2 separate regions of the Homo sapiens genome follow, and region 1 is reported to be linked to region 2. Evidence: microRNA targets listed by miRTarBase, many of them from high-throughput screens and not tested one by one. Region 2 holds a microRNA gene; the other region holds the end of a gene's coding sequence.
The links. Region 2 holds the annotated microRNA hsa-miR-6855-5p (UUGGGGUUUGGGGUGCAGACAUUGC, at 2,399-2,423, shown strand). A microRNA usually pairs through its seed, bases 2 to 8, with sites in the 3' UTR of a target mRNA and lowers its output. Matches are read on the target gene's strand: a 7mer-m8 pairs with bases 2 to 8, a 7mer-A1 pairs with bases 2 to 7 and ends in A, and an 8mer does both.

Region 1 (5,381 bases), not on the chromosome of region 2:
ATTCTTTTATCACTGTGGCTAGGAAGCTGTGGGACTCAGGAGGCCAGGCCTGGTCACATGCTCACCTAAGCCACAGGGAATAGGTTCCCCACAAATAAATAAAGGTTGTGTTACCAGAAGATGGGGAAGGAGATGCTGAACAAATAAAAACAATATATCCACACATAACCCAATAGAAAGCAGGTAAGGGATACAAACAATCCACAGTAAACTATAAATGGCCAATAAACATGAAAATAACCCCAATCTCACCATTTTTTTTTATAATCAGGGAAATGCAAAATAAGAAAAGGTTCTTTTTCGCCCAACAGATAAAAACTATCAAGTGTAGGTATGGTTATATGGGGAAATGAACATTCTCCATACACTTGGTGAAAATACAGTTATGAAGGCCTTTGGGAAGACTGAAGGTGGACAGAGAACAAACCCTTTGATCCAAAAATCCACCTTACTGGACTCCAGACTAAAGAAATATTCACACACATGCACAAAGACATCTGAATAGGATGTTTACTTTGGCAATGTAATAGCGAGAGGAAAAAAATTAAGGGAATAAATAATGGCATTTTCATAGTATTTAATCATATTCAACCATTAAAGAAATTTAAAGACCTGTTATCTTTTTTTGAGACCAAAATTTTAAAAAGCTACAGAATATGAGATCCTATTTATGTAAAAAGTGTTTTTATGTGTATGTATATTCGTACGGAAAGGTGACTAGAGGATGTATGTTAAACTGTGGTAAGTGGAATGTGATTGGTAGCATTGGAGAAAAGGGTCTCTCTATTCAAAGAACTGTGTTTTTTATACAATGAGAAGGTAGTCATTAGACTTTCATAATTAAAAAAAGGAAAATGGGCAAAAGCAATTCATAATAGGAAATGCAAATGGCCAAGAAACATGAAAAGATGTTCCTCCTCATTAATATTCAAAGAAAAGAAAGAAATTTTGCCTACCAGATTGGCAAAAATTTTTAAGGATTCAGGGTTGGCAGACTATAGGCAAACAGGCATTCTTACTAATGATGGAGTTGTAAATTGGTGAAATCTTTTTGGTAGTAGTTTTCAAAACTGCAAATGTGAAACCTGATCCAATAAATTTCTAGTTATTCATCCTACAGAAATACCCACACAAGTAGCAAAATACATGTACAGGAATGTTAATTACACTTCTATCTATAATGAACCTAATTATCAATCCATAGGGGATTAAATAAATTACAGAATATTCATGCAATGGAATAGTATATAGTTATGAAAAAAGAACATCTTCAATGTGGGGGGAGAGGAGGCAAGTCTCAGTGTAGTGCATGTGAAATGGGGTTATGTCCTACTTTATACGGTAGCTGAGGATTAAGAGTTAATCCATGATAAAGCACTTCAAATAGTGCCTGTCACAGCAACCACAGGTGTCAGCTGTTAACACATTATTGATTAAATAAGTATATGCCTAAATCTGGAAGAACAAACGAAATTATCATGACTTCTCGGTAACACTGTGAAAGGAAATATCCTTTTTCATTTTACATTTCTGCACTGTAAAAAATTCAAACCAGCAATGTTTAATAGCTTTCACATTTGTTAACCATAAACACAAATTTATCAAGGTTTAATAGCCACCACCCATGGCATGGTGAATATGTCCCTGGAGTCTACAGAACCAGATTTGAATTTTATCTCTAGGCCACATGCAAGTCACATGATCTCTGAATCTTGCTTTCCTAGTCCACAAATCTAAGTGAGATAGGTACGGTGTCTAAGCCAATGCCTAGCATGCAGATTATTTCAGTACATGTAACCCTCCCTTCAATTTACATGAATATGAGACATATTGCTAAAGATCAAGTACCAACTGGGTATGACTACAGAGAGCTTAACCTCCAAGAAAGCCAGAAGAAAAAACCAGCAAATGCTCAGTGGCTACTGGGCAGATATCAGCAATCTGCATGACCTAAAATGACTGCTCATTTGCTAACCAAACAGATACTCTGGCGATGCCACTGCTTGGCACTGCCATATCACCACTTCATCAGAAGCTAGGCACTCCCCCAAATTTCTATGATTATCTGTGTGGGTAATGAATGTGTGGATGGAATTTAAAAATCACTACATAGTATTTAAAATCAATTTGTCTAGTGGGGACTAAGCCTAACCAGAGATAGAAAGTACACATCTCATCATTTCCTCTTCTTGTGTGCCACCATCCAGTTTTTTTTGGTCCAGTCCCTTTTTCCCACAGAGCTTTGCCTTAGCCTCAGAATCCTTTCTGAACAATGCAGATATTAGAGCTGCCAAGACAAAAACAGTATTTGCCAACCCTCATACTACTTTTTCTACACTCACATTACCAAATATCTTTGGCATTTATGACAAATCTACCACAGGGAAGCTTCCTTGTATATAGGAACCGCATACGATCTTAAAAAGCATGACATAATAGCCATTGAGAGGTTGCTCCCTTCTTACCTACTCTGATACAAGAATTCTGTCATTCCAGCCGTCTTCCAAATATGCCACCTGAAAACCTACTTGGAAAGAAGCCAGTTATAAATAAATAAATCACATCATTTATCTTAGAGCAGAGGAGTTTACAGCTTTATTGGACACTGACTTGTTTCCCCTCAGCCACAAAGAGAAAAAGACCCAAACAAAAGTCCCTACATTTTCTTGTATAACTTAAAATACATTATATCATTACTACATATTTATACTTCAATAAATCTTAATCTATAAAGCACATTTTTTATAATTGTTATCAGAAAACCTATAAACAAGCTCCATTCTGCCTCACTTTTCCACCAGCTGGCCTTGCATTTATTACTATGCTTTTTAATAGGCTCATGCAAAATCTCACCTTCCATTTTTAAACTTGATCCAAGCACCAGATATAACCAAAATCTCTGAACTAGGAAATATTTGTATTCACATGGGTCATTTTCCACACAATGATGCCCATTATAAAAAAGCCTCCTCTCATATTCTATATTTTAACTTCCAGAGTTTTCCACTAAACAGTAGAACCACAGTACTTGGAATTCTCAGCCAAGGAGTATATAATCCTACTACTACAATGTATTACTTTAATACATTTTAAAAAATGTGTTAAGACTGAAAATTAAAAAAAAATTCAATTGTGATAGGTTAATAAACTAGTTAATTGTCTAGTTGTTTATTTTTTAAATAGAACAGTCCATTCAACTTAATATGTAGGTACAACCTCAATGCTATTAGAGATTGATTAGTTCTTTAAAAAGATTCACAAACTTCCAAATTGTGGTAAGAGTATCGTGGACTCACCTCTGAACACTGGAGAGCCAGCTAGCTCTTTTGAGCCGAGTCCTCCTCCCCCTCCAAATACAACACCCTGGTAAAAAAAACTACAGTTCTGGGAACCTCACAGGTGACCTCCCCTGAGGAATGCTCAGACAAGGGGAAGAGGCTAACTCACATAAAACAGCAAACCCCTATGATTTACAGTGGAAGAAATACCTACCTACTTATGGTAGGATTACAGTACCTAGCACAGTGCCTTGTCGGTAGAAAATGTTTAATAATAAATGCATGGCTGCTTTTTTAGCCTGACGTTCAACCCTTTTGTACCAAAGGAATAAAAAATAGGTAACCTGATACTTGCCCACCTGTCAGGGAATTTTCTGTCCTTAACAAAGATGAAGGCAAAATAATGATGAACTCTATCATCTTTTTCTAAAAGCCATGACAGACCATTACCCTTATGTTTACATTTGCCTTCAACACTGCCATCCGCTACAAATTTTTCCCTAGTGTTATAATTTCTACCTTCATTATTTTACAACTGTTTATTATTTAGACTGTATGCTTTTTAATAATATATGGGAAAACATTATTTTCATTAGTAAGATGACTCCAAATTATAGAGAGGATGAGTAGCTTTTGAATTTTCCTGCAGGCAAAATATAAATTCTTGATACATTTCAATTCTTAGATCAAAGTATTTGCATATCTTCCCCAATCAAGGTGTTCCATTCACTTTTTGATGTTTTATCACCATCACTTCTTATCTGAGATCTTATGGTTCATTTTGAGGCTCTTAGCCATCCTTTATCCTCTTATTTTCTCAAATGCATATTCAAATTAGGTAAAAGGAAATAAGGGTAAATTTTTAAAAGATGGTTTAAAATGGTTTTCAGACTTTGTAATTCCTGTTGCCTTTTAATATATAAGGGAATGTATCCATATAAAGAACATTTCAATGATCAATGCAGAAATAATGTATTTGTCTTAAAAAAGAAACTTTCAAGAAAGGGACAATGAATCAGGTAGTTCATTATTTGGAGAAGTAATACAGACTATAAACATCACATGGAAAATTTAGGCATTAAGACCTGAATTAAGTTTAAAATTTCAGTTTCTAGGCAGGTATGACACCATTTCTTTCAAGATAAATATCATAATGGTGAGTGAAGATTTTTACATTTCCCAGTGGATTTTCTGACAGTCAATAGGGAAAAAACTATTCTGCATCATTTCATATTTTAAATTTTGTCTTCATTTCTGAAGAAAAAGACCTGAGTGCTGATTCTTTTTTTTTTTTCAATTTCTTAAACTTTCACAACATTCAGAAGTTTTTCTGCATTGTGTCTTCTCTGATGTCTAAAAAGATTTGAGCTTTGACTATACGATTTCCCACACTGAACGCATTCATAAGGTTTCTCCCCAGTATGGATTCTCTGATGATTAATAAGCCCCGAATTCTGGCTAAAGGCTTTCCCACATTCAAGACATTTGTAAGGTTTTTCTCCAGTGTGGACTCTCTGGTGTTGCACAAGAATGGAACTTCGGCTGAATGCTTTCCCACACTCAACACATCCATAAGGTTTCTCCCCACTGTGAATTCTTTGATGAAGAATAAGGGCTGAGCCCTGACTGAAGTGTTTTCCACATTCATCACATATATGTTGTTTCTTTCGAGAGGGATTTCTCTTTCTTTCAAACCTGCCCTTGGGGAAACAGGTTTCTCCATATTTAAAAATTTGAGGAACACCCATATTGAGAGTGCCAGGAACTTCATGGGATTCTAATGCTGAAGGAAGCTCCTGCTTTGGAGCTAGTGCTCCATTTTCAGTCCTACCATCATCATCTGAAATAAACAGAAAATGTAAATATCATTCATTATCTATTAAGGGAAAAGAAACCTAAAAAAAATTTTTTTTTTAATGAACTAAAATAGCTAGCACACATCTATAAACCACTCTGACACTGGTGTTAAGGCCTATTCTCAAAAAAGAAAAAATGAAATTACTCTGAATAACAGTATAACATCATGATATAAGGGATATCTGAATAAAACATAGGCAAGTGGTTTACAAATGGTAGTCAGAAAACAAAGGTCAGAAAGATGGT
Region 2 (5,381 bases):
ACCACGTTCTGACCTCCCAGTGCACCCCCTGTGTGAGCACACAGATCTCAGTGGGGCTCACTGGGCGCCTCTGCCCGAGCCCCTGCTGCCTTGGCTTCCTGCTGTGCTGGTGGCCCAGTCACAGAGTGGTCAGGATAAAATGGTCATTGCTGGGATTTGAGACCCAGGCAGCCTGCAGGGGCAGCTTAGACTGAGTCATGACCAGGTCTGTGGGAAGGTGAGAGCAGGCAGTGAGGGTATGTGGGGGCTGGCACAGGGACTGAGGGAGCAGGGGGAGCCAGAGGAAGGGTAGAGCATGCAGGCAGTCTGGCCTGTGGGTAGCGTGGCTTGGGGCAGGACTCGGGTGAGTCCTCTTTTGGCATCACACTCCCTCATCCTTCCGCCACCCCCCTGCCCACCTCCACTGGTCTCATCTGTAGGGAGAAAGGTGGCTCGGGCTTAATGTGGTACTGCCTCTCTGTCCCTCCCGTGCTGAGCTTGCAGCAGAGGCAGGAGATTCAGAGCCGGAGCCGGGGAGTTGCATGGACCCAGGTGCATACCTGGCTCTGACACTTTCTAGCTGTGTGTCCTGGTAGGTGTCCTTTAGCCTCTCCAGTCCTCACTGTTATCCTCAGAAGAATGGGGTTAGGACAGACTGCCATGGGAGGCCGCTGTGGGGGTGAGCAACTCTTCTGCAGGGGGCGCCCATGAGGTCCTCCTAGATGGAGGCTGGCGCTCTCATCAGCCACAGGGCGCTGGAGACTGGTTCCTCCTGCCTCCAGGGGAGCCCTGTTGATGCAGCCCCTGGTTCTAGGACACCCAAGAGTTCCTTCGCTGCCTGATGGACCAGCTGCACGAGGAGCTCAAGGAGCCGGTGGTGGCCACGGTGGCGCTGACGGAGGCTCGGGACTCAGATTCGAGTGACACGGATGAGAAACGGGAGGGTGACCGGAGCCCATCAGAAGATGAGTTCTTGTCCTGTGACTCGAGCAGTGACCGGGGTGAGGGTGACGGGCAGGGGCGTGGCGGGGGCAGCTCGCAGGCCGAGACGGAGCTGCTGATCCCAGATGAGGCGGGCCGAGCCATCTCTGAGAAGGAGCGGATGAAGGACCGCAAGTTCTCCTGGGGCCAGCAGCGTACAAACTCGGAGCAAGTGGACGAGGACGCTGATGTGGACACTGCCATGGCTGCCCTTGACGACCAGCCCGCGGAGGCCCAGCCCCCGTCACCACGGTCCTCCAGCCCCTGCCGGACGCCAGGTATCAGCTGGCCGGGGACTGCGGGAGGAACCTCAGCCTATGGCCCAGTACCTACCGGGTGCTGAGCGCCGACCTGCAGTAGCCCCCGGGGGACGGGTTCTTCACTAGACCCGAATGACAGTGGGGAAGTCAGCCTCCGGGGGGGCTCAGTGATGTGCCCAGGGTCCCCTAGCTCATAATGCTGGAGCCCAATTCAGAGCCCTCTCCCAGAGCCCTGAGCCTTCCAGCCGGACATGGATTGGACAGGTCTGCTCCGGCCTGTGTGCTGGGGCCAGGAGTGGGCACATGACAGAGGAGACACATTAGGGTCAGGCTTTCGTCCCTTTAGGAGGGGCTGGCAGGTCATCTTCCTGCCCACTCGTGGAGCTGGCCTGGCTGCCCTGGCCCAGCATGGTACCCTCTCTGCCCCCAGAGCCGGACAATGATGCTCACCTACGCAGCTCCTCTCGCCCCTGCAGCCCCGTCCACCACCACGAGGGCCATGCCAAGCTGTCTAGCAGCCCCCCTCGTGCAAGCCCCGTGAGGATGGCACCGTCGTACGTGCTCAAGAAAGGTTCGGGGGGCACGGGAGGGTGGGTCAGCTTGAGGCTGGGAGTACAGATTACGCCCGTAGCTGCCTTTCTCATGGCCCCCTGTGGCGGAGGGCCGGGCTATGGGCTCCTCTCAGGTACACCCCTGAGACACCAGTGTGGGAGCCACGTTTTGCAGAGGATGACACAGAGGCATGAGATGGTGAATTGCTTACCCAGTCATGTGACTCACGGATGTCACTCCACATCCTGTCAAAGGAAGCCGCAGGGCCCGCACCTCGCCCCGGCCAGGCAGGTGGAGGCTGGGCTAGTCCTGTGCTGTGTCCCCAGCCCAGGTATTGAGTGCTGGCAGCCGGAGGCGGAAGGAGCAGCGCTACCGCAGCGTCATCTCAGACATCTTTGACGGCTCCATTCTCAGCCTTGTGCAGTGTCTCACCTGTGACCGGGTGGGTGCCCCAGGGATGGGGGGAGCTGGGCCAGGCTGCCAGTGGCCTCAGCAGCTCTTGCCCTGACTGGGTGCAGGGTGGGCTCTCCACGGGTGCTCCCTGCTTTTATCCAGGGGAGGGCCCTGCCTGCGTGGATCCCGTGTCTATGGCCTGGGGAGTAGTCCCTCTGCCCCTCACCTGCTGCTTGGGGTTTGGGGTGCAGACATTGCCAGAGGATGGGCAGCAGACTGACCTTCAACCCCACAGGTATCCACCACAGTGGAAACGTTCCAGGACTTATCACTGCCCATTCCTGGAAAGGAGGACCTGGCCAAGCTCCATTCAGCCATCTACCAGAATGTGCCGGCCAAGCCAGGCGCCTGTGGGGACAGCTATGCCGCCCAGGGCTGGCTGGCCTTCATTGTGGAGTACATCCGACGGTGCGCCCACCTTGCCACTACTGGGCGACATGGGCTGGGCCTGTCCTGGTTTTCCTGGGCGGGAGACAGTACACAGTGAAGTCCATGCATTTGGGGAACCAGGGAGGTCCTGGGAGGAGCTGGGGGCCGAAGCCTGCAGAGGAGTTGGCTTAATATGCAGGGGATTTCTTGGCTACTTTGAAGTGGCCAGGATTGGATAGTCCCTTGGAGCTGGAGGGCGATGGACAGCAGGGAGGTGACCACATGGCAGGTTGAAGGGAGGGCAGCAGCAGGACACAGGCCTGGTTGGCGGGAAGGGCAGCAGCTTTCCCAGGGCTGCCTCTCCTGCCTGAGGCCAGAGACCCGCATGACCCCAGGGAGGGGGTAGCATGATCATGGCCGCAACACAGATGAAGGAGGCCAGGCTTGCGGAGAGATGATGTCACTCGGCCCAGGACACGGACGTGTCTGGCTCCAGGCCTCTGCCCCGACCCGCCGTGCCCGGCTGCTTCTCTGGGCCTTCAGGGTCCTTCTGCGGCTCAGGCCTGACAGACCTCAGCCAGAGTCCCTTCAGCTCCTGTTCTTGCCCAGGCCCTGGCAGCACCCCTGCACTCCTTTTCTGTCTGTAGGTTTGTGGTATCCTGTACCCCCAGCTGGTTTTGGGGGCCTGTCGTCACCCTGGAAGACTGCCTTGCTGCCTTCTTTGCCGCTGATGAGTTAAAGGGTGAGGGGCCTGGCTGGCAAGGGTCGGGGAGGTGGAGGGTTGTGGGGACGGGGATGTGCAGACCCCAGCAGGCCAGCATGCAGCCCAGGGCTTGTGGGATGCACAGCCAGGCTAGACTTGGCTTCCAAGGTTGATCCCATCAGATACCCACGCCCACTGCCAGCCACGCTGGACCAGGGCCATGTGCTATCCCAACCCCATCATCTTGCAGCTCTTGAGTGTTCACTTATTTTTATTTTTACCAATTTGGTGGGCAAAAATGATGTATGTTAATTTTTCATTTCCTTGATTACTGATGAGTTTCTACATTTTTTGTTAAATATACTGGCTCTATGTATTTATTTAAACATTGCCCATTCCTGTTCTTGTTCTTTTTCTCCGTTGGCTATTTGGCATCTAAACCTTTGGGAAAACTCTCTCTTTTTTTTTTATTTCCAATTTTCAATTGCGATAAAATACACAAAATGTAAAATTTACCACCATAACCATTGTAAATGCTGTTTTTAACAGAAAGTGCACAGTCGAGTAGTGTTAAATACATGCACATGGTCACGCAGCCATCCTCCCCATTCATCTCCAGAACTTTTACATCTTGCAAACCTGAAACTCAGTATCCGTGAAACAGCTCCCTACTCCCACCTCCCAGCCCCTGGCAACCTCCACATTCAAGTCTGTGAATGTGACTACTCTAAAGGCCTCATAGAAGTGGAATTATACAGTACTTGCCATTTTGTGACTGACGGCTTTTACTGAGCATAACGTCCTTAGGGTTCATCCACGTTGCAGCGTGTGTGTCGGAATGCCCTGCCTTTTGTATGCTGGTTATTTATTGTTCCATTGTGTGGATGGCTGGGGCCTTTCTGCTTATTCGTTCATCCGTCAGTGGACACTCAGGCCGCTTCCCTGTTAGCTATTGTGAGGAATGCTGCTCTGACCATGGGTGTGCACACCTCTCTTCTTTCATCCCTTTGGGTCTATGCCTATTTTTAATTTCTCGAGGAGCCACCGTACTGGGTTCCACAGTGGCCACCCCATTTCACATTCCCACCAGTGACGCACAAGAGTTCCAGTTTCTCCACATCGTCGTCCACACTCATTTTGTTTACTTTTTTGATGGGAGTCAACCTCATGGGTATGAGGTGGTATCTCATTGTGCGTTTTTTTTGTTTTGTTTTGTTTTGTTTTTGAGACGGAGTCTCTCTCTTGACGCCCAGGCTGGAGTGCAATGGCATGATCTCGGCTTATTGCAACCTCCACCTCCTGGGTTTAAGCGATTCTCCTGCCTCAGCCTCCCGAGTAGCTGGGATTACAGGCACATGCCACCACGGCTGGCTAATTTTTGTATTTTTAGTAGAATGGGGTTTCACCATGTTGGCCAGGCTGGTCTTGAACTCCTGACCTCAGGTGATCCGCCTGCCTTGGTCTCCCAAAGTGCTGGGATTACCGGCGTGAGCCACCGCACCCAGCCTCGTTGTGGTTTTGATTTGCATTTCCTAATGATAGTGATGTTAAGTGTCTTTTCATATGCTTGTTGGCCATTTGTAAGTGTTTGGAAAAACATCTATGTGAGTCTTTTGCCTATTTTGTTTTTTGTTGCTTGTTATAGGGATTCTTTTTTTTCTTGAGACAGAGTCTCACTCTGTCACCCAGGCTGGAGTGCAATGGCATGATCTTGGCTCACTGCAGCCTCCGCCTCCTGGGTGCAAGCAGTCCTCCCATCTCAGCCTCCCGAGTAGCTGGGATTATAGGCACGTGCCACCACACCTGGCTAATTTTTGTATTGTTAGTAGAGATGGGGTTTTGCCATGTTGGCCAGGTTGGTCTCGAACTCCTGACCTCAAATGGATTTGCTGCCTTGGCCTCCCAAAGTGCTGGGATTACAGGTGTGAGCCACGGTGCCGGCCTCGTTAGTTAGAGGAGTTCTTTATGTGTCCAGATACGTGACTTATAACCCTGTCCTCCCATCCTGTAGGGTGCGTTTCATTCTGTGGTTTGTGTCTTTTGCTTTGGTTGCCTGCACCTTTGGTGTTGTGTTTCAGAGATCA

Region 1: miRTarBase lists ZNF24 as a target of hsa-miR-6855-5p. Seed matches in the 3' UTR shown: 7mer-m8 at 1,318-1,324.

The regions. Positions count from the first base shown.
Region 1 is chr18:35,332,653-35,338,033 of GRCh38, forward strand. It overlaps ZNF24 (zinc finger protein 24), which reads right to left. Exons shown (of 4, transcript NM_006965.4): 4 at 1-5,118. The coding sequence ends at 4,580. Among named protein-coding and RNA genes, the nearest start is that of ZNF24, 9.1 kb to the right of the region's middle.
Region 2 is chr9:129,867,212-129,872,592 of GRCh38, forward strand. It overlaps MIR6855 (microRNA 6855), which reads left to right and starts at 2,394; the gene lies at 2,394-2,460. USP20 (ubiquitin specific peptidase 20) reads left to right here. Exons shown (of 26, transcript NM_001110303.4): 11 at 794-1,238; 12 at 1,651-1,791; 13 at 2,099-2,214; 14 at 2,461-2,633; 15 at 3,242-3,336. RefSeq lists an enhancer at 3,009-3,508.